Linked DNA regions of Homo sapiens. The protein of the gene in region 6 purifies or fractionates together with the protein of the main gene of each other region. This does not show direct contact. Each region holds a gene or a part of one and is shown on either strand. Other genes may lie near its edges. The genes, in order: UGGT2, SPCS2, XPOT, FHIP2B, GCN1, SLC27A4 and CALU.

Region 1 (3,500 bases), on a different chromosome or scaffold from region 6:
TTTAACCCAAATAAACTGAGATAGAAAAATCTAAAGATTCTCTTAGCAGGAAAAGATATTATTCACCAGAACAATAGTGCTATGTCTGGATTAGAAAGTCTTGTTCCACTGCATGGCCAAAAGAAATACTGTATCTGAAGTAGTATTTTCCTTCTTTTTGTGATGTGTTTCTTTCATTCAAAATTTTTCTTTTGAAAACTTCTTAGTGAAATATAACATATACTCAGAAAAGTGCACAAATCATGAAATTTAGCTTTGGATTTTTACAAACTCAAACATCTGTGTAAATCAGCAGCCAGATACAGAAGCCGCTAGCTACTTTAGATTTGTTCCTACCAGTTTAGAAAAGTCAAACCTCCTCTCTTCATTCAAATATTTGCTAAAATTATACATACTTACACATAATTATTTTCTGACAGCACTATACAAACTATAATTCCCTCTCCCTTTTAATTTTTCTTCATAGCACTTTTTTCTGTAGATAATAGTTTATTTCTACCTACTTCCTCTAAAATACAAGCCTCATGAAGGTCATAATTTGTATTTCTTTTGTTCACTAATGTACCCTTAGATCCTAGAACAGTGCCCGTTTCAGTGAATATTTGGACACATATTTAATGAAGAAAAAATATTCTTTTTATTTTATCTGAATGTTTTATTTTATTTTATTTTGAAACCAAAACAATGACTCCTGGCAGCTGTTGTACCCCTAATTTCAAGATTTCACAGATAAAATTGGTGCTTCTTGCATTTAAAAAAAAGTATTTTAAATCTACATTGTTCTTACAAAGTCAGAGAAAAAAATTAAACATATAACCAGAAACTAGTTTCAAGTAAGAATCAAGTGGTAAAACGCAAATTCTATATTTATTAATTCATCTTTTCCAATTCCTTTTTCATTTTCTCTCTCAGTATTTGAGCTCTTGAACTAAATTTAGCCCACAGTATATTTCATTAACTGCTTCTGCTTTAAACAGGGAATAAGCTACTTCTAAGCCTATAAGATACTCAAATATGAAATATTCAGACCATAATCACTACTTTGTATTTTTAATCCTTGAATTAAATAATGATATATCTCAAACATGAAGCTCCTGTATAGAATCTAATTTATCAGCTTAGAACTTATTTTGTGTTTTTTGTATCCTCTCTTCATCTTTACATCTCTGACCAACCAACCTGTTGACATATACATGAACTATTTGATATGTAGGTGTTCCAAGATCCAGAGGCTTTTTTTTAAGTCAGTTTTCTCAAGTCAGATGTTAACAATAAAAGTATGGGAACATTTATCTTCCATTAATAAGTTTGTTAAATAATATAGTGCACTTATTTTTAATGACGTTAAATTATATAGTTTTATTTATACTTGTGATTTCATATTTGTTAGCATTTTAATATTTCTCATTAATAAGTATGTTATAGAAGTAGTATTTAGACATCTTGCCTATTAGTTTATAACAATTTATAGGAAGCTTTACCTTTTTAATGTTATTTTTTTCTCTAAAACAAAACTACTTTCTCTTGAACATATTGTTTGATTTTGTGTGTGTGTTTTTAGGAAGTAATTCCTCACATGGCTAAAGAGTATGGATTCCGATATGAACTAGTTCAATATAGGTGGCCCCGTTGGCTTCGTCAACAGACTGAAAGACAGAGGATTATTTGGGGTTACAAAATTCTTTTCCTTGATGTTCTTTTCCCACTAGCAGTGGACAAAATCATTTTTGTTGATGCTGACCAGGTAATAAGGTTAACTACTATTTTTAGTAATACGCAAACATTTTTTACACTTCTATCTTAATATAGAGATTAATTCATGTTGCTCATGTTTATTATCTTCATTACGGTGCTTAAGATACGATTGTGATATATAAGCAAAGTATCTTTAAAAACAAAAAGTCAGAATTCCAGGGGAAAATTGAAGGTATTGTAAGAAGTACCATTTATTATTTAGGACATGGAAGTTTTCTCTCTAAAGTAGTAGTTTTTTACATTTGAGAACTAAAACAAATACTTATATTAGTCATAATAAGAGTAGTTAATGAATTCCTGTAAATTATGTGCTGATATTTGTTTAAAACTAGGAATTTCTTCTTGCTAGAAAAGCTAGCAGTTACATACAACTCTCATTCTTCCACCTTCAACAGCATTCTTTCGCATTCAACCAATAACCAAATTCTCATCACTCTATCTCTTAAGGAAAAGAGCATTTTAAATTTGGCCAGCTTATGCCTGTAGTCTCAGCACTTTTGGAGGCTGAGGTGGGGAGGAAAGTTTGAGCCCAGGAGTTAGAAGTCACAGTGAGATATAATCATGCCACTGCACTCCAGCCTGAGTGAAAGAGTGAGACCCTATCTCTAAAAATAAAAGCAAATAAATTTGGCCAAAAAAAAAAAAAAAACACCCAAGGCCCTCTGCTTTCAAAATTTATATGTCCAAAAATTATGACTTTTCCTTTTTCCCTCCTTGCATTGCTTTTGCATCATTAGTGGGAAAAAAAAATTGAAAATACACAGAATTTCTAAGAAAAAAGTAATATGTAAATGAAAATATAAAGTAAATGGATAAGTTAGAATTTATGTGGAACAAAAAGTATATTTCAATTTCTTTTAAGAGACAGGGTCTCACTCTGTCATCCAGGCTGGAGTGCAGTGGCACAGTCATAGCTTACTGTAGCCTCAGACTCCTGCATTCGAGCCATCCTCCCACCTCAGCATCCTAGGAGCTGGAACTCCAGGTGCACACCACCACGCCTGGCTAATTTTTTTTTTTTTTTTTTTTTTTTTTTTTTTACAGACAGGGTCTCACTGTGTTGCCCAGGCTGGTCTCAAACTTCTGGCCTCAAGCAATCCTCCCATCTGAGCCCCACACATAATATCTAATATGATTCTTTCTCCTACCTTTCTTTCAATGTGTGCACTAATATTTTTCTAGAAGGCTTGAGCATATTAAAAAATAACATTTATATTATTTTATTCAAGCTATTTAGAATAATTGGGAGATTTTTCTTTATGATTCAAACTTAACATTTGCCAATATACAATAATGGAGATTTGGCATGGAATGATTTTGTTATTCATACATTGAGAAACTAAGAGCTCTGCACTTACGTAATATTTAACCCCTTCCCCAAATGTCTGATTCGTAAAATGACTTGTTTATAAATGACATAACAAAATATTCTTGTTGGTGAGTAAGACCACTGTCTTAAAGACTAGGAATATAAATTTTAGTTTACCTTTAACCTGTAAGGACAAGAGGAATAAATGTTAAATTCAGTAAATTCATATTACATGAAAGCACTGTGAGGACAATACAGCTCTTTGGATTTCTGTAGTAGAGTAATAATGATTTGAGATTCCCATAAAAAAGGGCTTATGTTATTTTACAGTCTTTATCAGACAGTCTATTTTAATTATTTAGATTGTGAGACATGATCTAAAAGAACTTCGAGATTTCGATCTGGATGGAGCTCCTTATGGGTATACTCCATTTTG
Region 2 (3,500 bases), on a different chromosome or scaffold from region 6:
TTATTTCTTTAAACTATATGTCATGTAACACAGTGGTATCACAGACACTGATTACTTTAATACTATTACTTTAATTACTAATTAAAATATATATATATATATATATATATATATATATATATCTGCCTGCCTAGGTACCTTTTTCAGCTGTTGCTAGCACCATTTCTCTGCTCTGATCTCCATCTTATCAAATTTCAATAGTAGTTTTTTATATTACTTAGCCTTTCAGTAGCATTTGACTTATTGATCACTTCTTTTTTCTTGAAATACTTTCTTTACTTGGCTTCTAGGACACCACTTGCCCCCAGCTTTCCTCCTACGTCAACTAGTCTTTGTTGTCTTCATTGTTCTTTGGTCTTCTTCCTGACCTGTGTAAATATTGCCAGTCCCTGAGCTTATGAGCTTATTACCCCTGGCCCTCTCCTCTGTCTACCCTCATCCCAAGGTGATACCCAATGTCATGACTTAAATAACATGTAGAAGTTGCTGACTTCTACATTTATATTCTCAACCTGGACCTTTCCTATAAGTCCCAGACTTTTCTGTCCAACCGCCTACTTGTCATCTCCACTTAAATGTCTAAAACATGTATCAGGCATCAATAGCCAGAGCCAATCTCTTGATTTCCGCTTACCCCTCAAAGTGCTTCTCTCCCAGTCTTCTTCATTTCAGGTAGATACCTCCATTCATCTAATTTATTCAAACAAAAACCTGAGAGTTACCCTTGATTCTTCTCTTTGCTTTGTACTCCACAGCCATCTCATTGTCGTATTTTCCTGGCTGTACATCCAGAATCTGACCACTCCTACCTAGAGAGCTGTAGTAGCCCTTTCAACTGGTCTTCCAGCTTCCGTGCTTGGCTCCGTTACATTTTGTTCTCCACACAGCAGCCAGACTGATGTTTTAAAACATAGATCACTCACTCTCTTGCTGAATCTCTCCAGTAACTTCCCATCTCAGTTAGCTAAACTCCAAATCCCTAATTGTGGCCTATTTTATAGCCCCTGCATGTTCTTGATCCTGCTTGTTTCTGTCATCCTCATCTGTCAGTTTCTGCTTGAGTCATTATACTCTGGAAACCCTGGCTTTTCTGCTGTTCCTCAAACACGTTAAGCTTGGGGGATTTTGGTGTACTGTTTTCACTGGGACACTCCAGATTTTCTCATGGGTTACTCCTTTATTCAACTCTGCTCAGATGTTAACTATTTTCCCTCACTATTTTTTAGTCTTTTTAAAAACTCTATTGCATTTTTCTGTATAATCTTTTTTAGAGCCTGGAATTATATGCGTATTTGTTTACTTTTTATCTTCCATACAAGAAGAAGCTCTTTGAGTGCAGAATTTGTCTTGTTTATGACTATATCCCTAGTGGCTAGAACAGTGCTTGGCACATAGCAAGCAGCCATTCAATATTAATTTAAAGAAAATAAAGAGTGTAATTGCCATAAAGGTTGTGTTTAAAAATATTATTTTTTTCTTTTAAAAGAATGTCCAACACTGGAATGAATTGCTATTGAGAGGCTTGGCAGTTTCCTTAAAAAGAAAAAGAAACCCAGAAAAGTCATATAACAGTTAATATTTTTCCAGGCAGTAGGAGATGGATTTCAGATGAAACGGCTGTATGGTCCTCTCCCTGAATTTGCACTCAGCTGCATTTTTCAGAACTGATTGCATGTAATTCTTAAATGGAGCACGTGATCTGCCACCTTTCTAGAATAAGGACTCATCGCACATCTGTATCAATGTAGTACATTCCTAGCCAGTCTTCGTGCCTTAATTCAGGTCTTCCTTGGCAGCATCCCTCTCTCTTCCAACCCTCCCCAGTCAGCTTTGCTGCAGATTGATATCCCTGAGGAAATAGGTAACATTTTATCCAAAATCTTTTTTGCAGATCCTTGAACTTGTAGTGTGCCCTTGCCCCTCTATGTCTACTTCTTACCATTTAGCACTTAGCATAGTTTATAATTCATTGTAAGTATAGGATTTTCCTTAACTAAATTGTAAAGACCATTTTTTTTGTATATCTGATTTCTTGTCTACCCATTGCAAAGGTAAGAAATTCATACTGGATGATTATGCCAACAATTCAGTCAGACTTTAGAAGATGTTAGTTGCTAGTAGTGAAAGGATTGTTGACTACATTTCAGTTTGCTGGTAGAAAAAAATACTTCGTTGTTGGAGCATTACTGATTAATATGCTGAATCAAGTTGTTTTAACTTTAAGCTCTTTTCAGCCTTAGATCTCACACTTACTGGGTTCAGTGGTGGGATGTTTAAGTCATGGATCCAGTGATCTGGCCCTCAAAGAGCTTCAGTCATGTAGGCTTCTCTATTCATGGGCTGGGTTGATGTAGAAGCAGCCCCGTCACTGCTAAATGCAGTTTGTGGTGGAGTAGAGAAGGCAGTGTAAAACCTAAGAATCAGTTTCTCTGGGGTTGTCACTAATGTGTGTGCTCATAATTTAATTAACACATGGTAATTTCCTAACTTCTAACTCCAGTGATGAATGCAGTCAGTAATAAGCACTGTTAAGCTAGTAATTTTCTTTGCAGTGTATCTTGGCCATTTTTATAAAAAATAGATTGAAATTGAAGATTCAGTGTGTTGCTAAGAGCATAATCTCTTTGAGATACCATGTTTTTGCTGAATTGGGATCTAAATTAGATGACAGTGCACATTCTTAAGATAGACATCATTTTCTTCCCAAACTGAACATTTTCCTTTCTTGCTAAATATGTGTGTGTGGGGGGGATATAGGCACTATATATTTCCAACTGAAATTGTAATCTCAGCTTCTGAGTTTGCCATCAGTTTTTATTATCTCCTTATTTTAGTTTAGAACTCCACATATACAAATGGGTATTTATCCTTTTTCCTCCTGTATTCTTCTTCTTGGAAAATGACATGATGGCTCCAACAAGTCATCCAAGCCCTAATTCTAGTAGGTGGTCATCTCTGTCTCTTCTCTTTCATGTTCCTTATAACTAGTCTGTTACTAAGTCCTGCCAATTCTACCTCAGAATACTCCCTTTCAGTCCCCCTACTGCTGCTCTGTTGAGCATTGAGGCTCTGCACTTACATCAGGCCCCATCTGCATCTCTATGTCCAGTGTTACTCCCCTCCAGATCATCTGCCAGGTTGCCACTAAAATGACTTAAAAAAAAAACGTAAATTTGATTGTTATTCCCATGCTTAAAATACTCTCCATTGCCTGCTTCAGAATAAAGTTCAAGTTCTTTAGCCTAATAACTAGGAAATGGTTTCTCTCGGATGCCTCATCTCCTACTACTTTCCCCCTTTGCAGCTTCTGTCTACTTTCTAAACTGGGATAAAGGAGAGAAAAAGTTTATTTTTCTTAAAGCCATGCTCAGTTCTGTCTAAATCAGAACAGGGTCACCATTGACACCACTCTCACCCTTGGTAATTCTTCATCTCTCCAGTGTGAATTGAGGAATCCTTTGAGTCTTATTATCAAGCCAGGGAACTTTATGAAGCAATCC
Region 3 (4,109 bases), on a different chromosome or scaffold from region 6:
CTTTAGCGACATCTTGTAGCCACTAGCCTGACATTTTAAACACATAAATTAGAAACATGATGCAAGAGTGATTCAAGGTATTTTATATAGGAAATGCCTGGTGTAGTGTCTTGGACAGCTAAATAAAGGTAGCTGTTAAAACATTAGTTTTATTCTATGCTCTTACCATTCCTCCCTCTCCAAGTTTTGTTTGTAGTCTGTGGCAGCAACCTAGTCTGTATTTAGTACACATTGAATAATCAACAATGAAATGTAAATATTGAGCACATTGTGTGTCAAACACATGTATTAACTCAAACCTCACAGAAACCCTTTGAGGTCGGTACTATTAACAATCCCCATTTTACATACGAGTAAACTGAAGCATGGATAGACTAAAGTAAAGTGCCTGAGGTCAACTAGTGAGGAGGCGGAGTGGCAGTCAAGTCGAGGCAGCCTAAGCCTACACTGCCTCTATGTTGCATTAATAAATTAATAAATCTGTGACCAAATAAATGAAGTGACATTTAGTAGCATCGAAAGATCCCGTGAGTAGGACTTCCTAAGAATGCTCTCCTTCTTTTCATGGACAAAATTTTAGTCTGTTTAAAATAAATTTTGGACCGGACACCGTGGCTCACGCCTGTAATCCCAGTACTTTGGGAGGCCGAGGCAGGTGATCACTTGAGGTCAGGAGTTCGAGATCAGCCTGTCCAACATGGTGCAACCCTGTCTCTACGAAAAATACAAAAATTAGCTGGGTATGGTGGCGCGCGCCTGTCATCCCAGCTACTCAGGAGGCTGATGCAGGAGAACTGCTTGAACCCCGGAGGCGGAGGTTGCAGTGAGCCAAGATCTCGCCATTGCACCCCATCCTGGGCGACAGAGCGAGACTCCGTCTCAAAGAATAAATAAATAAATTAATTAATTAATTTTGAAAACCTGTCAGCACTCATCAGAGCTTTACACTGCTGTACTCGGGACACTTGGGGCCGTAGACAAGCAATTAAATTGACTCACACGTGGTTAGAACCACGTCATCCTGATTCGTGAATCCGTACTCTCAACTACTAGAAGCCCTTTGTGGAATGCTCGGGGCGAACCTGACGCTTGAGCTCTGACACCACGCAGACACAGCCGGGGATTTAGGAGCTGGGTAGGGACTCCTGGGCCGGATGCCTCATCCCGGCATGCACCTCAAGCCCCGGTGACCACGCCTTCCGGCGAGCGCCAGGGAGCGCGTGTGCGCCTCGCCGCCCGGAAGCGCCGGCCGCTCCCTGCATGCTGGGAGTTGTAGGCCTCCGGCGTCAGCCCGCGGGCTGCCGCCCGCACTCTCCAAGAGACTGCTGGCGCCGGCGCCCGCCCGCGCGGCACCGACGCGGGGAGCGCGCTTCGCGCTGACTCAGCGGCGGCGGCGGCTGCGGCGGCGGCGGCGGCGTTAGCCGGCCCTCGCGCTCTTTCCCTTCCTGGGGCGCCGACCCCGCCCGCTTGCTTGCTTGCTTGCTTGCCTGCCTGCCTGCCTGCCCGGCGCCACGCAAGAGAAGGTGCCAGGGGACGCAGAGCGACTAGAGGCGCGCGGTCCCGGCCAGCACCGTCTCTGGCGTTGTAGCTGCGGCCGTGGCGGAGGACTACGGCGACAAGGACGAGGGCCGCTCTCCCAGCTCTCTGCGTGCCGCGCCGCTCCGCTCCGCTGGCTGACCATCTGGAGTGCAGGCTGGGAGGCGGGATGGAGTGATAGGGAAGGTGACTCGGGGCTCGGGGGCAGCGGGACCGGGACCAGGTTTGGTCCGCGTGAGGCTTCGAGGAAGTTGGCCGGGGCGGACCGGCCCGGGGGAGTCCCGACGCCAGGGAGGGTGCAGGCTTGGGACCCTCTATGGCGGTGCACCCCCTGGCTGGGCGGACCGGGTGGGGGTGGGTACGAGCCGGGGCCGCCGCCGAGGAGCGCGTCCCGAGTGCGTGGCCGGCGGTTGCTTGGTGTTTCATCACCCGAATTGCCACGAGGCTTCCTTTAGGGGAGGGATCGGGGGAGGGATGGGAGCAAGGCTAGCAGAGGAGGGTCGGCATCGCCTGTGGTTCCGAAGCCCGTTAGTCATCGTTGTAGCGTTATCAACTGTGGAGACCTCAAACTTGATTCTTCCCCCACCCCTGGACAAAAAGGAAAAGTGTTATTTCTGTGCAGTAATTGGCCAGCACGGACGCTCCATTTCTTCTCAAACCTTCCTCACCATCCTGCAGGACTAGAGAAGCATGAGGTTTCCCTGTAACCAGAAAAACGAGTACTTTTTGAAAGTGCTAATTAGTTGTGGCGGGCGGGGGTTGGGGGAGAGTTACGTTTTATTAAACCGACTTGTCAGCGTGGTGTTAAAAGGCTGGAAAGATTCAGTCGTAGTATTTGAAACAGTCTTCAGTAGGTGTAGAGGAATTTTTCCAAATTGTTTGATTCTTAATGGCTATCCAGGAAAAGTTAAGGCTTAATATTTTAAGTATGTTGCTTGCCTTCCCCCAAGAACCTTTGCAAGATGCATAATTGTTTACCGTATTGAAACATTTTTTGGGGTTTTGTTGTTGTTGTTTTGAGACGGAGTCTCGCTCGGTCGCCCAGGCTGCAGTGCAGTGGTGCCATCTCGGCTCACTGCAACCTCTGCCTCCCAGGTTCAAGTGATTCTGCAGCCTCAGCCTCCCGAGTAGCTCTATTACAGGTGCGCCCCGCCACACCTGGCTACTTTTTGTATTTTTCGTAGAGATGGAGTTTCACCGTGTTAGCCAGGATGGTCTCGATCTCTTGACCTCGCGATCCGCCCGCCTCAGCCTCCCAAAGTGCTGGGATTACAGGCGTGAGCCACCGCGCCCGGCCTTCCACTGCATATTGATCGTCCAAATGCCTTCTATGTGGGGGATTCTTTCTGTAGTGACAACTGTTAACTAGTTTGTTTCCTTGGGTTTATTGGCTATGTTTTCCTTAGGGCCACTTCATTTTTCTCCCGATAGCTTCAGAGTGACTTGACCAAGCTTAAGCACTTTTTCTTTTTTTTGACACAGTGTCTCACTCTGTCGCCCAGGCGGGAGTGCAATGACACGATCTCCGCTCACTGCAACCTCCCCCTCCCGGGTTCATGCGAGTCTTCTGCCTCAGCCTCCTGGGTAGCTGGGATTACAGGCGCAGGCCACCATGCCCAGCTAATTTTTGTATTTTTAGTAGAGACGGCGTTTCACCGTGTTGGTCAGGCTGGTCTCGAACTCCTGACCTCGTGATCCGCCCACCTCGGCCTCCCAAAATGCTGGGATTACAGGCGTGAGCCACCGTGCCCAGCCAGCAATTTTTTTTAGATGGAGTTTCGCTCTCGTTGACCAGGCTGGAGTGCGGTGGCGCCATCTCAGCTCACTGCAACCTCCGCCTCCCGGGTTCAAGCGATTCTCCTGCCTCAGCCTCCCGAATAGCTGGGATTGCAGGCATGTGCCACCACACCCGGCTAATTTTTGTATTTTTAGTAGAGACGGGGTTTCTCCATGTTGGTCAGGCTGGTCTCGAACTCCCGACCTCAGTTGATCTGCGCCCCCCTCCCCTCGGCCTTCCTTAGTGCTGGGATTATAGGCGTGAGCCACCCTGCCTGGCCAGCATTTTTTTAAAAAGCCATAGCAAATTCAAGGAAGCTTTTATTGGACTTCTCAATCAGGGATTCTTAGAAACTCCGAAATCGTTTTTTCTCTCTGTGGGCATTTTTCAGGGGAATGGACATCAGATTTTCTTAACATTTAGGGGGCGAAGGGAACCAGTGCCTTTCTTTGTGTTTTTCTGTCTTTTAAAAATGCTGATCTGGTATAAGAATGCCCCAAGTCGTTTCCATTCCACATGTTCCTACCTCTGACTATAAACAACGTATTGAGGGCTCACTATGTGCCAGCCATGCTCTGCATACCTTATCTCTTTGAAGCCTTTACAACTTTATGAGGCATATGGTCTTTTTCCCATGTCATAGAAAGGGTTCTCTCAGGTTTTGTAAGTTGTCCAAGTGGCCCCAATTAAAAAATGACAAGATGGGGATACAAACCCAGGTCTTTGAAATCCAAAACCTATGCTCTACTATGTCCTAGGGACATAGTGATGGATAGTCAAGACAGTCCTTGCCCTT
Region 4 (3,131 bases), on a different chromosome or scaffold from region 6:
GGTCCAGGAGCTAAGCGGGGCCCCAGGCGGGCCGGGACCCTCTCCTGTGGCATCAGGCGCCGCGCAAGAACACGGTTATTTCTCAGCTGGAATTGTAATGAGGGCAAAACACATTGGCGCTCTCTGGCACCCAGGTGGTTGCGGACGCCTTGGCGAAGGCTGTGGCTGAGAACTTCTTCGTGGAGACCCTGCAGCCCCAGCTCCTGCACGTGTAAGTGTCTAGTTCCCTCAGGCATGACTGTGGTCTACAGTAAACCACCTACCCCACCCAGCCTCGTCCTGTCCCTAAGGCCAGACACCTTCTTGACCAGAATCCCATTTGTGGACCCCATTGGGTGATGTTTGCCAGGCCTGCCCCATGATGTGCACGTGGCTCTGAGCTACGTGGGCTAAACGAAGGCCTCCTACCCTTCCCTGCAGGACCTCAGCAGGGATGGGCAAGTGACCACAGACATACCAGCCAAACATGCGAGGCAAGCAGGAAGGGTTCGGCCACCCGCACTCATGTGCTGTCTGCACACACCGGGCCTGGCTAAGGTGCCCTCTTCCCGTAGGTCCGAGCAGAGCATCTTGACCTCCACCGCCCTCCTCACAGCCATGCTGCGCCAGCTTCGCTCCCCTGCGCTGCTGCGGGAGGCCGTGGCTTTCCTCCTGGGCACAGACCGGCAGCCTGAAGCCCCCGGGGACAACCCCCACACCCTGTATGCTCATCTCATCGGGCATTGTGACCACCTCTCTGATGAGGTACAGTGGGGGACCTCCATCTCTGTTCCTCTCACCACCCCTGCCAGAGGGATTTCCTGAACACTCTTCCCATTTCATTAGTGTTCCCAGTTGACTCCACCTTTGAGACACTGAACTGCAAAACACTGCCGAGCCACTTTTATCACACACTAATTTTCTATGATCATATACTTTTTTTTTTTTTTTTTAAAGAGACAGGGTATTGCTCTATCACCCAGGCCCTGGAGTGCAGAGGTGTGATCATAACTCACTGCAGTCTCCAACTCCTGGCCTCAAGCGATCCTCTCACCTCAGCCTCCTAAAGTGCTGGGACTGCAGGCATGAGCCACTGTTCCCAGCTTATTTTTTTACAGTATTTTATATTTTGCACACTTGGCTCGCTGGAAGGCTAACACGTACTACTTCGTGAGGTAGGCGAGGTTGATACTCCCATTTCTCAGACATGGAAAGTAAGGCACGGAGAAGCGAATTGGCTTGCCTGAAATTGCACATCAAATTAGTCACATACCAGGGACCACCCAGACTTCTGGATTCCTAGGCCCACACCCCCCAACTACCCCCAAAACCTGCCACCTTAGCATCCAGCCAAGGGAGGTGACTCTGCCTCAGAGGTCTTTTCTTATCTGGGTTAGCCATGCCAAGGCACCCCTGGGAGCTGGGTGGGGAAGGGGCTATCCTGCCGACCCCCTTCCTGCTCCAGATCAGCATCACCACACTCCGGCTGTTTGAGGAGCTGCTGCAGAAGCCCCACGAGGGGATCATCCACAGCCTGGTCCTGCGCAACCTTGAGGGCCGCCCTTACGTGGCCTGGGGCTCACCAGAGCCTGAGAGCTATGAGGACACCCTGTAAGTGAAACCGGCGCCCTTTGGACTCAGCCCAGCCCTTAGCACTCGCACGCTCACTCTGTCCATTCATTCACTGGTGCCGTACTGCTCTGCCCTGGCCACAGAGACCTGGAGGAAGACCCCTACTTCACCGACAGCTTCCTGGATTCCGGCTTTCAAACTCCCGCAAAGCCTCGCCTAGCTCCTGCTACCAGTTACGATGGCAAAACAGCAGTGACCGAGATCGTCAACAGGTGGGGAGCAAGTTAGGCAGTCTGAACCACTTGAGTTTTATTTTATTTTATTTTATTTTTTGAGATAGAGTCTCGCTCCGTCACCCAGGATGGAGTGCAGTGGTACAATCTCGGCTCACTGCAACCTCCACCTCCCGGGTTCCGGATCCAAGCGATTCCTGTGCCTCAGCCTCCCGAGTACCTGGGATTACAGACATGCACCACCACACCCAGCTAATTTTTATAGTTTTAGTAGAGACTGGGTTTCCCCATGTTGGCCAGGCAGGTCTCGAACTCCTGACCTCAGGTGATCCGCCCACCTCAGCCTCCCAAAGTGCTGGGATTACAGACATGAGCCACCGTGCCTGCCCTGAGTTTTACTCTTTGGCCACAGCCCTGGGGTCCAGTCAGGGAGGGAGATGGGGTCCCACAAGCAGGGGAGAGCAGGGTGAGCCGGGAGCGCCTCCACACCGGCTTCTATCTCTCAGTTTCCTGTGCCTGGTCCCCGAGGAAGCCAAGACCTCTGCCTTCCTGGAGGAGACAGGCTATGACACATACGTCCACGATGCTTATGGCCTGGTGAGTGGCTCCTGCTACCAGCTCCCACTTCCTGTCCTTCAGAACAGCTGGGTCATAAGCTCTGGGTTCCGCCTCTCTCATCTGCCCAAGGACCCCAGCCCATCCCTCCTGCGTGGGGCCCTGTCTGCTGGTTCCCAGTCCCCAGGCCCACTGCCTCTACTTTCCCGCCTGTCTCAGTTCCAGGAGTGCAGCTCCCGCGTCGCCTCCTGGGGCTGGCCTCTGACCCCCACACCTTTGGACCCCCATGAGCCCGAGCGACCTTTCTTCGAGGGCCACTTCCTCCGAGTGCTGTTTGACCGCATGTCCCGGATTCTGGATCAGGTAGCTAGTGGGCCTGGGCCAGGAGAACTCCAGGCTGGTGCCTCTGGGGTCCTTCAAGAGCAGAGGTTGGCCACAGGGTTGCCTCTGCTTCGGTTCTTTGGTGCCACCCCTGTCCTTTCCCCAGGTGGGAAGCCCCGTCTCACCCCTGCTCCACACGTCCTAACACGTTCTGGCCCTCAGCCCCATGGAATCCATGACACACACACATCACGTGAGCCTCCCACCCCCACACACGTTCACAGTGGCCAGGCACCTTGCTGGGGGAGTGCAAAAATACTCACCAGCCCTGCCAGCCCTCGGCTCTGTCCACCATGTTCCTACAGCCATACAGCCTGAACCTGCAGGTGACCTCGGTCCTGTCCCGGCTTGCCCTCTTCCCCCACCCCCATATTCATGAGTACCTGCTGGATCCGTACATCAGCCTGGCCC
Region 5 (3,500 bases), on a different chromosome or scaffold from region 6:
CTCCATACCAGTGGCAGCCCAATCTGGCAGGGGAGCACGAGTGCCTACAGGAAGGACTGGATCTTGAGTCTCTGAGTTGGCTTTTCCACCTTCTTTGTTGCTGTCCATCCTGGGCTCTAGAGCTGCCTGCCTTGGTTCCCACACAGCTGGTGTTGTTCCCTGCACCCCCTCACTCCCTTCTCTTCCCTGTCAGGACAACACTCGCATCTCCTCAGCCGGGTGCCTAGGGGAACTGTGTGCCTTTTTGACTGAAGAGGAGCTTAGTGCCGTTCTACAGCAGTGCTTGCTGGGTAAGTACACTGGAGAGTTCCCCTTCAGGGACCTGGGCCTCTCAGCCCTAGCGAAGAGTCGACGGGCATCTCCCTCCCTCCCTCAGAGGATCTTTTAGCAACTGGACTGTCCTTTCCTTGGGAATCCAGCAGTTAAAGCAAAATCCAGGCCAGGGGTGGTGGCACTCACCTGTAGTCCCAGCTACTCAGGAGGCTGAGGTGGGAGGATCAGTTGAGCCCAAGAGTTGAAGGTTGCAGTGAGCCTTGATCACGCCCCTGCACTCTAGCCTGGGCGACAGAGCGAGGCCCTGTCTCTAAAACAAACAAACAATACTGAATTTGCAGTGGTCCCGTAGCCCTGAGTGTCTCTGCTCAAAGAACACAGCTGTAAGCCCGGAGTGGTTCATGAGCAGGCTTTCCTTACTTTCCTTAATGTGCCACTTTGGGGAGCTTCTGCCAAGATAGCAGGGAGGTCCATGTGAATGTGGCCTGGAGTTTTCCTTGTGCTCTGGGTCAGCACACTGGTCTCCAGCGGGGTGGGCCCATGGGCCTCATGGGTGCTGGGGACATGCTGTAAAATACCGGTTGATCCCAGTCGTGTCCTTCCACCCAGCGGACGTGTCCGGCATTGACTGGATGGTTCGGCACGGGCGGAGCCTGGCACTTTCCGTGGCTGTGAATGTGGCTCCTGGCAGACTTTGTGCCGGCAGATATAGCAGTGATGTTCAGGAAATGATCCTGAGCAGTGCCACGGCGGACAGGGTAAGGCATTCGGGCCATATCCCATAGGCATAGGCCACATCCCATAGGCAGCACCTTGTGGACACAGCGCGGGTGGACCCCAGACTGGGGCTTAAGAAGCTTGGGTCTAATTTTACCTTTGTCAGTAACTTGCTGTGCCCTTGGACCAGCACTTGATCCCTTTGGGCCCCAGTTTCATCATCTAAACAAGGAATTTGGGTTGAAGAATCTAGATGCCCCTTCTGGGTCAGGTCTTGGATCCCTGTTCCTGGGAACCAGTGACTGTACTCATCTGCCTCAGCCGGGGCAGCCTGCCTGAGAGCTGTCATGGTGTAAGGGGTGATGTGGTGGTGATGTAGTGGAGGGTCCTGGAGATTACTAGGAACTGGGGTTTTCCTGGCTCTGGGGAAGGGGTGGGGGGCCTCCCGTCTAGCGCTGTCTGTTCTCCACAGATCCCCATTGCGGTGAGCGGGGTCCGGGGCATGGGCTTTCTCATGAGACACCACATCGAGACAGGCGGAGGGCAGTTGCCGGCCAAACTTTCCAGCCTGTTCGTTAAGGTGAGTGGGGGCCAAGCATGTGTTTAAGCCCTAACACCTGGCTTGTGAGGAGGTCCTAGGATCAGAGACCACCAGCAGTGCGCCCTCAACTAGTTGTGTGCTAGTTCTCCGTGGACGGCCTCCAGGAGATCGCTGAACACTTAGGGATGGAATGTAGGGGGTTTCTGTGTGTGCTTTACACTGCAATAAAGCCTAACTTTTTGTCAGATTCTCAAATTGACCCGTGACTCTGAATCAAGTTAGGAATCGCTATTTTAGGCATTCTTTCTAGGCACCGTAGTTTTGTAAAATTAGATACAGACCTGGGTTCCCATCTTAATACCTCTCTTTTCCCTCCTTCCTCTTCTAGTTGGCCCAGCACTTCTTGGTGTGGTTACTGTGCTATGTGCCAGGCCCTAGTTAGGAAAGCCAAGGAATGTGCCAGCAGGGCTCCTGTGGCCCGTGTGATATGGCGTGCTTCTGAAGCATTACTGTGCACAGAAGTCAGAGCCAGGGTGTATTTTAGTGAGATGGGGCCATGCCTGGTACTCTAACCAGCTCTCAGCAACAGTGTCAGTGGTGCTGTGCATGGACCTTGCCTTGAGTAATGAGGTTCCCAAGAGTGACTGCCTCCCCCCGCAGCACCGGGAACCCACGGAGTTTCTGAGGGGCCTGATTCGATTGAGCCTCGTCTGTGATGACATCAGCCTGCACCCGCTTGTTCACTTGGCATTATCCTGAAGGTGTAGAGATGAACAAGGCAGACAGGATCCCTGGAGCCCATGGGGAGGACCCTGATATAGATAAGATTGGCAGGGGGCACCTCTAAAGGATGACATGGGAGCTGAGACCTGCAGGATGGGAAGGAACTAACCTAGAGAGGATCCGGGGCAAGCACGGCCCAAGCTGTGGGACCAGCCAGGGCAGAGGCCCGAGGCCCTGGGATGTTGGAGGAAGTAAAAACGCATGCGGGCTGAGAGTAGTGAGCAAGGGGAGAGTGGCATGAGATGAGGGTGCAGGAAACCAGGGTCGAGTCATGCTGGGACCCTCCCACAGGAGCAGGGGGGGTCAGTGTTCATGCTGTAGGGAGAGTGTCGAGGCTGGGCATTTGGGCTGCTTCAAGGAATAGATGACATGCCTATCCAAAAGCCTGTTTGTGGTTCTTTTTACAGTGTCTGCAGAACCCATCCAGCGACATCAGGCTGGTGGCTGAGAAGATGATCTGGTGGGCAAATAAGGACCCACTGCCTCCCCTGGACCCCCAGGCCATCAAGCCCATCCTGAAGGCTCTTCTTGACAACACCAAGGATAAGAACACCGTGGTCAGGGCCTACAGCGACCAGGCAATTGTCAACCTCCTCAAGATGCGGCAGGGTGAAGAGGTGTTTCAGGTGGGAGCCTGGGGGGCCTCACCAGGATGTGCTGTGAGCATTTGTCTTTCAGCTCTTCTTCAGCATGGAAATATTTAAACCACAGGCTCTTCTCTGCCACCACGGATGTGCTAGCTTTCAGGAGCAGATTAAGATTTGGGTGACTGGGGCCGGGCGCGGTGGCTCGCGCCTGTAATCCCAGCACTTTGGGAGGCTGAGGCGGGCAGATCACCAAGTCAGGAGATGAAGGCTAACACGGTGAAACCCCGTCTCTACTAAAAATACAAAAAAATTAGCCAGGCGTGGTGGGCGGCTTTGTCCCAGCTACTCAGGAGGCTGAGGCAGGAGAATGGCGTGAACCCAGGAGACGGAGGTTGCAGTGAGCTGAGATCATGCCACTGCACTCCAGCCTGGGCGACAGAGTGAGACTCCGTCTCAAAAAAAAAAAAAAAAAAAAAAGATTTGGGTGACTGGCCCAGTACCTGAAAACATACATTCCCATGGTTTTCAGACTTCTTTCCGAGCAGGGCCCTTTCTTCAAATAAAATCTCACATGACACCCAAACAGACATAGCAGATCC
Region 6 (2,222 bases):
ACTGCAACCTCCACCTGCCGACCTCAAGTGATCCTCCTACCTCAGCCTCCCAAGTAGCCAGGACTATAGGTGTGCACCACTGTGCCTGGCTAAGTTTTGTAATTCTTTCTTTCTTTCTTTATTGGAGACGGAGTCCTGCACTGTCACCGGGGCTGGAATGCAGTGGCACGATCTTGGCTCACTGCAACCTCGGCCTCCCGGGTTCAGGCGATTCTCCTGCCTCAGCCTCCCAAGTAGCTGGGATTACAGGCACCCACCACCACGCCCAGCTAATTTTTTGTATTTTTAGTAGAGACGGGGTTTCACCATGTTGGTCAGGCTGGTCTCGAACTCCTGATCTCAGATGATCCACCCTCCTCGACCTCCCAAAGTGCTGGGATTACAGGCGTGGGCCACTGCGCCTGGCCAAGTTTTGTATTTCTTGTAGAGATGGGGTTTCGCCATGTTGCCCACCCAGATCTTGAACTCCTGGGCTCAAGCGAGCTACCTGCCTCAGCCTCCCAAAGTGCTAGGATTACAAACATGAGCTGCCACGCCTGGCCGCATCTTTCAATCAATGGTATTAATCCTGTACAGATGAGAAGACTGATGCTCAGGGTGGTAGAACTGGGATTGGAACCTGGATGAGACAGACTACCAAAAATGGCTGCAGATTCCTCCCCTCCCTGTACACACACACCTCTGCTATGTGGCTTTGGCACTTCTCCTGGCAAGAGCTCGACTTTTTCAATCTCCATTGGCCTCAATCTGGACTGGCTTTACAACTTGCTTTAACCAACAGAAGGTGGCAAAAGCAATGTTGTAGGAGTTCTGGGTGAGTCTAGGCCTCGGGGGACCTTGCATCTTCCACCTCTACCTGCTTGGGGGTGCCCTGGGGCTAGTCTAGCCTTCCAAAGGGTGAGAGGCCACGTGGAGCAGAGATGAGCCATCCCAGGTGAGGGCCCAGACCGGCGCCGTCCAATATGACCTCATGTGGCTATTTACATTTAAATTATTAAACAAGGCCAGGCATGGTGGCTCACGCCTGTAATCCCGGCACTTTGGGAGGCCAGGGTGGGCGGATCACCTGAGGTCAGGAGTTCGAGACCAGCCTGGCCAACATGGCAAAACCCCATGTCTAATAAAAAAAATACAAAAATTAGCCAGGTGTGGTGGCACGTGCCTGTAATCCCAGCTACTGGGGACGCTGAGACAGGAGAATCACTTGAACCCAGGAGGCAAAGGTTGCAGTGAGCTGAGATTGCACCACTGCACTCCGGCCTGGGCGATAGAGCAAGACTCCATCTCAAATAAATAAATAAATTTAAGTTAATTAAACAAAATTTAATCCCAAAGTGTTGGGATTACAGGCGTGAGCCACGGCGTCCAGCCAGCAGCCACCTTTCAAGTGCTCAGTAGCTCTGCCAGGCTAGTGGCTACTGTGTTGGACAGCAGAAACCTAGAACATTTCCATCGCTGCAGAAAGTTCTGTTGGACAGTGCTGCAGAGGTAAGCAGCCGAGAGCCAGACACGTGGGTGAGGCCATCTAACTGCCTCTTGCCCCAGCTAAGTTACTAAGTGATGACCCCAAAGCAAGGTCAATAGAAGAACTGCTCAGCTGCACTTAACCCCTAAATTGCTTACCCACAGAATTATGCATCAATAAACTGGTTGTTTCGAGCCATTTTGGGGCAAGTAAGTTTGGGGGTGGTTTGTTCTGCAGCAAAGCCCATCTGAAATACAAGGTCTGAGAGCCTCCCTGCCTTTCCTGGACAGAAGTATGGTGCTGCTCAATCCTCCGGAAGCTCATGGTCTTGGCCATTAGCCTGGCCACAGTGTCTCCAACCTTCAGAACCACACTGAAGTCCTAAACCCTCCCCGATGCTTTAGGCACTCCAGGTACCCACTCTCTGGCAGAAGCCACATTGGCTAGGGAGTGCCCACCATCAAGGCAGGACTGATATGACGACAACGTGGGAGGTGGCCAGGGAAATGTGCTCCAAAGGGTGAGCAGCCAGGGAGGGCCCAGAAGAGGCACCAAGGGCTGAGGAAAGCAGGGGCAGGTATGGGCATGAGCCTCAGCATTTCCTGCCCACCAGGGAACTCTTGAGAGCCACCAATGGGCCAACAGATAGAAAGATGGTGCTGCCTTGTGGGCGACTGCGGGCCCGCTGCCCACCTCCCACCTGGACAACTGCAACAGCCCCTCCCTCGTCTCCCAGCTCCCTCAGGGCTGCCTGCAA
Region 7 (3,500 bases), on a different chromosome or scaffold from region 6:
TGTACTGTCTAATTTGTATGAACAGCACACTCTCATGTTTATTAGCTTTCTGTGTGCACCACTTGTAAAATATTGCTCTGGGTGAACAACACTCTGGCTGACCCTCCAATAATTCAACTGATCAATCAAATCAGTTAAAGAGTAAACAGAAAATCCGAGATTTAGCGGCTCTATAAATACAACATTAAAGTGAGTATGCCTTTACTTCAGGGCAAAATGAAACTTCTATCTCAAACTATAAACAATTCTTTTTTTGAGACAGGGTCTTACTCTGTCACCCAGGCTAGATATAGTGGTGTGATGATAGCTCACTGCAGTCTGGTCCTCTGGGGCTCAGACCATCCTCCCACTTCAGCCTCCCAAGTAGCTGGGAATACAAGTGTGTACCACCATGCACAGCAAATTAAAAAAAAAAAAATGTTGTAGAGTCTCACTATGTTGCCCAGACTGGTCTCAAGCGATCCTCCAGCCCTGGCCTCCCAAAGTGCTGGGATTACAGTCGTAAGCCACCATACCCAGCCTATAAACAAATAATTCTTTAGATAAACAAAACTTTGGAAACAAAAAACAGAATTATATGTTGTTGATGTTTTGGGATATATCCCAACAATATGTATAGTGACAGAGGCTTGCAGAATCAAGTAAAATCAAGAGTCACTGCAACAAAGGATTTTCCTTATGCCTAAGGGGACTTTATCTTTAGGAAAATTTTACAAATGATTACATTCTCAAAATAAAATATAGCATAATACCCTAACAATTCTTGCCAACCCCAAATATTACAATATGAATAAATACTTATGCACTCTAACATAATCTGGTCCTGGAAAGGATACTGTACCAAGTTTTGAGACATGTAGCATACAGAAATGTAATAGATTGGTTTACTCTGTGATTTAGAGGGAAAACTACATTTATGTTTCAGGCTTAATATCTTGATACAAGGATACCAGAATTCCAAAGAGTAGAAGCCAAGTGATTTAGCTTTATCACTCACCCATTTCTCCTTCCTTCCCCTCTCCTGAATAAACTTTCAATCTCATCCCTTAAACAGGCTCCTCCATTCTGTCAATCAGTGCTTCTCAGGTCTCCACTACCCACAGTCTTTCCCAGACTGTGCTGTTCCTTCATGCTTGCTCCTCCCTTTCCCTCACCCACAGTTTCTACCCTGCTGCCTCTGCTTCCTCACTGTCCAATGCTACCCTGAAACCTGGCTTCCTTACTATTGATGAAACTGCCTACAACGGTCATCAAGGACCCAGATGGACAAAGCCAATGGTCCATCTTTACTTCTTTATCTTTCTGCAGGGAGGAATGAAAAATCTGCACTTTAAAGAAGTTCTACTTAAAAAAAAACAAAACGTCCTTTGTGCCCACATATATAACAACTCCTGGCTATTAGAAACTTTAACAAAGCCCTCTTGTTTTATGAATATAGACACTAAAAACAAAAAACACCATCCATACCAAAAACTGTACTAGATTTATCTAAAACCATATGGTTTTTGGTATGGAGCATGTATGTTCAAGCAGAAACAAAGGACATCTAAGACAAAGGATATCTTACGTGGGAAGATGTGAAAGGAACAGTAAAAAATAACTTCATACACAGCATTTGAAAATCTACTTTAGTGCACTTCGTTTTCTTTTGTTGAGACTGAGTCTGTCTCTGTTGCCCAGGATGGAGTGCAGTGGTGTGATCTTGGCTCACTGCAACCTCCACCTCCTGGGTTCAAGTGATTCTCCTGCCTCAGCCTCCTCAATAGCTGGGATTACAGGCATGGTCTACCACGCCCGAATAATTTTTGTATTTTTAGTAGATACAGGGTTTCACCATGTTGTCCAGGTTGGTCTCAAACTCCTGACCTCAAGTGATTCTCCCGTCTCGGCCTCCCAAAGTGTCGGGATTACAGGTGTGAGCTACCATGACCAGCCAGTACACTTCATTTCTGAAGCATCTTTGTCTTTTCAACCAAATTGAAACCAAATGATACAAAGTTAATGGCCCTTCTCATTTTCCTCACCCACTTCAACACTTTATAAAAGTTTAGACTGGGCCAGCAGCAGTGGCTCAAGCCTGTAATCCCAGCACTTTGGAGGGCCAAGGCGGATGGAATGCTGGTGTTCAAGACCAGCCTAGGCAATCCCATCTCCACCAAAAATACAAAAAATTAGCTGGGTGTGGTGGCGCAGCTATAGTCCCAGCTACCGGGGAAGCTGAAGTGGGAGGATCGCCTGAGCCCCGGAGACACGAGGTTACAGTGAGTCATGATCATGCCACCACACTCCAGCCTTGGTGAGGGAACAAGACCCTGTCTCAAAAAAAGAAAAAGAAAAAAAAAAGTTTAAATTGGATACTTTTGTCCAAAAAGTAAAAAAAAAGTTTAGAGGAATAGGTACAGATCACTTCCAGCTGGAAAGATCTTTGTGTATCCATTGGGCCATACATACTGATCACAATACTGGTCCAATGGATATACTATGGACATAATGGACAACATAATATTAGGAAAAATATGATACACATAAACAAAAGACTTAGCTGTATGAGCTTTTATCATGTGATCTAGAAAGTAAACCAATGGTTGTGAAAACTGAATTTCCCCACCTCCCATTTCTCAAATGAGTTTCTCTCTCTAAAATTCTGTCCCTCTTCCACGAAGGGTAACATCTAATATTTTTTTCTTGGGAAAAAAAAAAAATCTAGGCCTGTACTGCCCAGTACAGTAGCCACTAGCCACATGTGACTACTAAGCACTTGAAATGTGGCTAGTGTGAATTGCGATTGGTATAAGTGTTACATTTCATATTGAAAGAATGGTATTTTATATGTATTAGATTAAACATTATTAAAATTACTTTCACCTGTTTTAGATTTTCACCTGAAAATTTAAAATTACATATGTGGCTTGTATTATATTTTTATTGGACAGCATGTTAGACACAAACCAAAAGATTAGAACAGAAAATATATCCAGTAGCTATCATCCTTTTGTAGTATTAGTATGTCACCAATAATGGTCTTCTATAAAGTTGTTTTCATGAATCGTTCCAGTAATTTATAAAGAGAAAAGCCTAACTGGGTTAAGTGTGATTTTAATAATAATGAGTCTTAAGAATTGGTTTCTTCGATCCATCCAAAAATGTCCTTAAAAGCTCTAAATTCTTATCACTTCTCCCTACCCCACCCTTCAGGTAAGAACTTAGAGCTTTCAAGGAAGTTTTTGTCCTTAGTGTCCATAGTGTATCCATTGGACCAGTATTGCGAGCAATACATGGCCCAAACTTTCAATTTTGGTAAAGTGCCATTGGTCACAGAATACTTAAATTGTTTCAGGGAAATTTAGATGTTTAAATTCAACTTCACAAGAACGTTAACACTGAGTGATCCAACAGTTATTATGGTTGACCAAAGACCCATTGCTCAATGTTAACAATTGGGAGAAATGGGTGTGGTAGTAAAATTCCAGTTCTCTGAGCTGGATGGATATTCACCAGAA

Evidence for each region.
Region 1: the proteins of SLC27A4 (region 6) and UGGT2 purify together in Homo sapiens (affinity purification with mass spectrometry; one large-scale study listed by BioGRID and IntAct). This does not show direct contact.
Region 2: the proteins of SLC27A4 (region 6) and SPCS2 purify together in Homo sapiens (affinity purification with mass spectrometry; one large-scale study listed by BioGRID and IntAct). This does not show direct contact.
Region 3: the proteins of SLC27A4 (region 6) and XPOT purify together in Homo sapiens (affinity purification with mass spectrometry; one large-scale study listed by BioGRID and IntAct). This does not show direct contact.
Region 4: the proteins of SLC27A4 (region 6) and FHIP2B purify together in Homo sapiens (affinity purification with mass spectrometry; one large-scale study listed by BioGRID and IntAct). This does not show direct contact.
Region 5: the proteins of SLC27A4 (region 6) and GCN1 purify together in Homo sapiens (affinity purification with mass spectrometry; one large-scale study listed by BioGRID and IntAct). This does not show direct contact.
Region 7: the proteins of SLC27A4 (region 6) and CALU purify together in Homo sapiens (affinity purification with mass spectrometry; one large-scale study listed by BioGRID and IntAct). This does not show direct contact.

What each region holds. Positions count from the first base shown.
Region 1 is NC_000013.11:95,854,402-95,857,901, reverse strand, and holds part of UGGT2 (UDP-glucose:glycoprotein glucosyltransferase 2 precursor), read left to right. Parts: intron 1-1,561; coding exon 1,562-1,744; intron 1,745-3,426; coding exon 3,427-3,500. UniProt on the Homo sapiens protein: Recognizes glycoproteins with minor folding defects. Reglucosylates single N-glycans near the misfolded part of the protein, thus providing quality control for protein folding in the endoplasmic reticulum.
Region 2 is NC_000011.10:74,955,766-74,959,265, forward strand, and holds part of SPCS2 (signal peptidase complex subunit 2), read left to right. Parts: intron 1-3,500. UniProt on the Homo sapiens protein: Component of the signal peptidase complex (SPC) which catalyzes the cleavage of N-terminal signal sequences from nascent proteins as they are translocated into the lumen of the endoplasmic reticulum.
Region 3 is NC_000012.12:64,403,083-64,407,191, forward strand, and holds the start of XPOT (exportin-T), read left to right. Parts: upstream 1-1,309; 5' UTR 1,310-1,722; exon of another isoform or gene 1,723-2,678; intron 2,679-4,109. UniProt on the Homo sapiens protein: Mediates the nuclear export of aminoacylated tRNAs. In the nucleus binds to tRNA and to the GTPase Ran in its active GTP-bound form. Docking of this trimeric complex to the nuclear pore complex (NPC) is mediated through binding to nucleoporins.
Region 4 is NC_000008.11:22,099,150-22,102,280, forward strand, and holds part of FHIP2B (FHF complex subunit HOOK-interacting protein 2B), read left to right. Parts: intron 1-134; coding exon 135-211; intron 212-554; coding exon 555-744; intron 745-1,444; coding exon 1,445-1,590; intron 1,591-1,694; coding exon 1,695-1,823; intron 1,824-2,290; coding exon 2,291-2,381; intron 2,382-2,558; coding exon 2,559-2,702; intron 2,703-2,826; coding exon of another isoform or gene 2,827-2,865; exon of another isoform or gene 2,866-2,913; intron 2,914-2,995; coding exon of another isoform or gene 2,996-3,025; coding exon 3,026-3,131. UniProt on the Homo sapiens protein: Able to activate MAPK/ERK and TGFB signaling pathways. May regulate the activity of genes involved in intestinal barrier function and immunoprotective inflammation. May play a role in cell proliferation.
Region 5 is NC_000012.12:120,128,716-120,132,215, reverse strand, and holds part of GCN1 (stalled ribosome sensor GCN1), read left to right. Parts: intron 1-193; coding exon 194-290; intron 291-882; coding exon 883-1,031; intron 1,032-1,462; coding exon 1,463-1,570; intron 1,571-2,721; coding exon 2,722-2,940; intron 2,941-3,500. UniProt on the Homo sapiens protein: Ribosome collision sensor that plays a key role in the RNF14-RNF25 translation quality control pathway, a pathway that takes place when a ribosome has stalled during translation, and which promotes ubiquitination and degradation of translation factors on stalled ribosomes.
Region 6 is NC_000009.12:128,357,527-128,359,748, reverse strand, and holds part of SLC27A4 (long-chain fatty acid transport protein 4), read right to left. Parts: intron 1-2,222. UniProt on the Homo sapiens protein: Mediates the levels of long-chain fatty acids (LCFA) in the cell by facilitating their transport across cell membranes. Appears to be the principal fatty acid transporter in small intestinal enterocytes.
Region 7 is NC_000007.14:128,742,359-128,745,858, reverse strand, and holds part of CALU (calumenin isoform a precursor), read right to left. Parts: intron 1-3,500. UniProt on the Homo sapiens protein: Involved in regulation of vitamin K-dependent carboxylation of multiple N-terminal glutamate residues. Seems to inhibit gamma-carboxylase GGCX. Binds 7 calcium ions with a low affinity.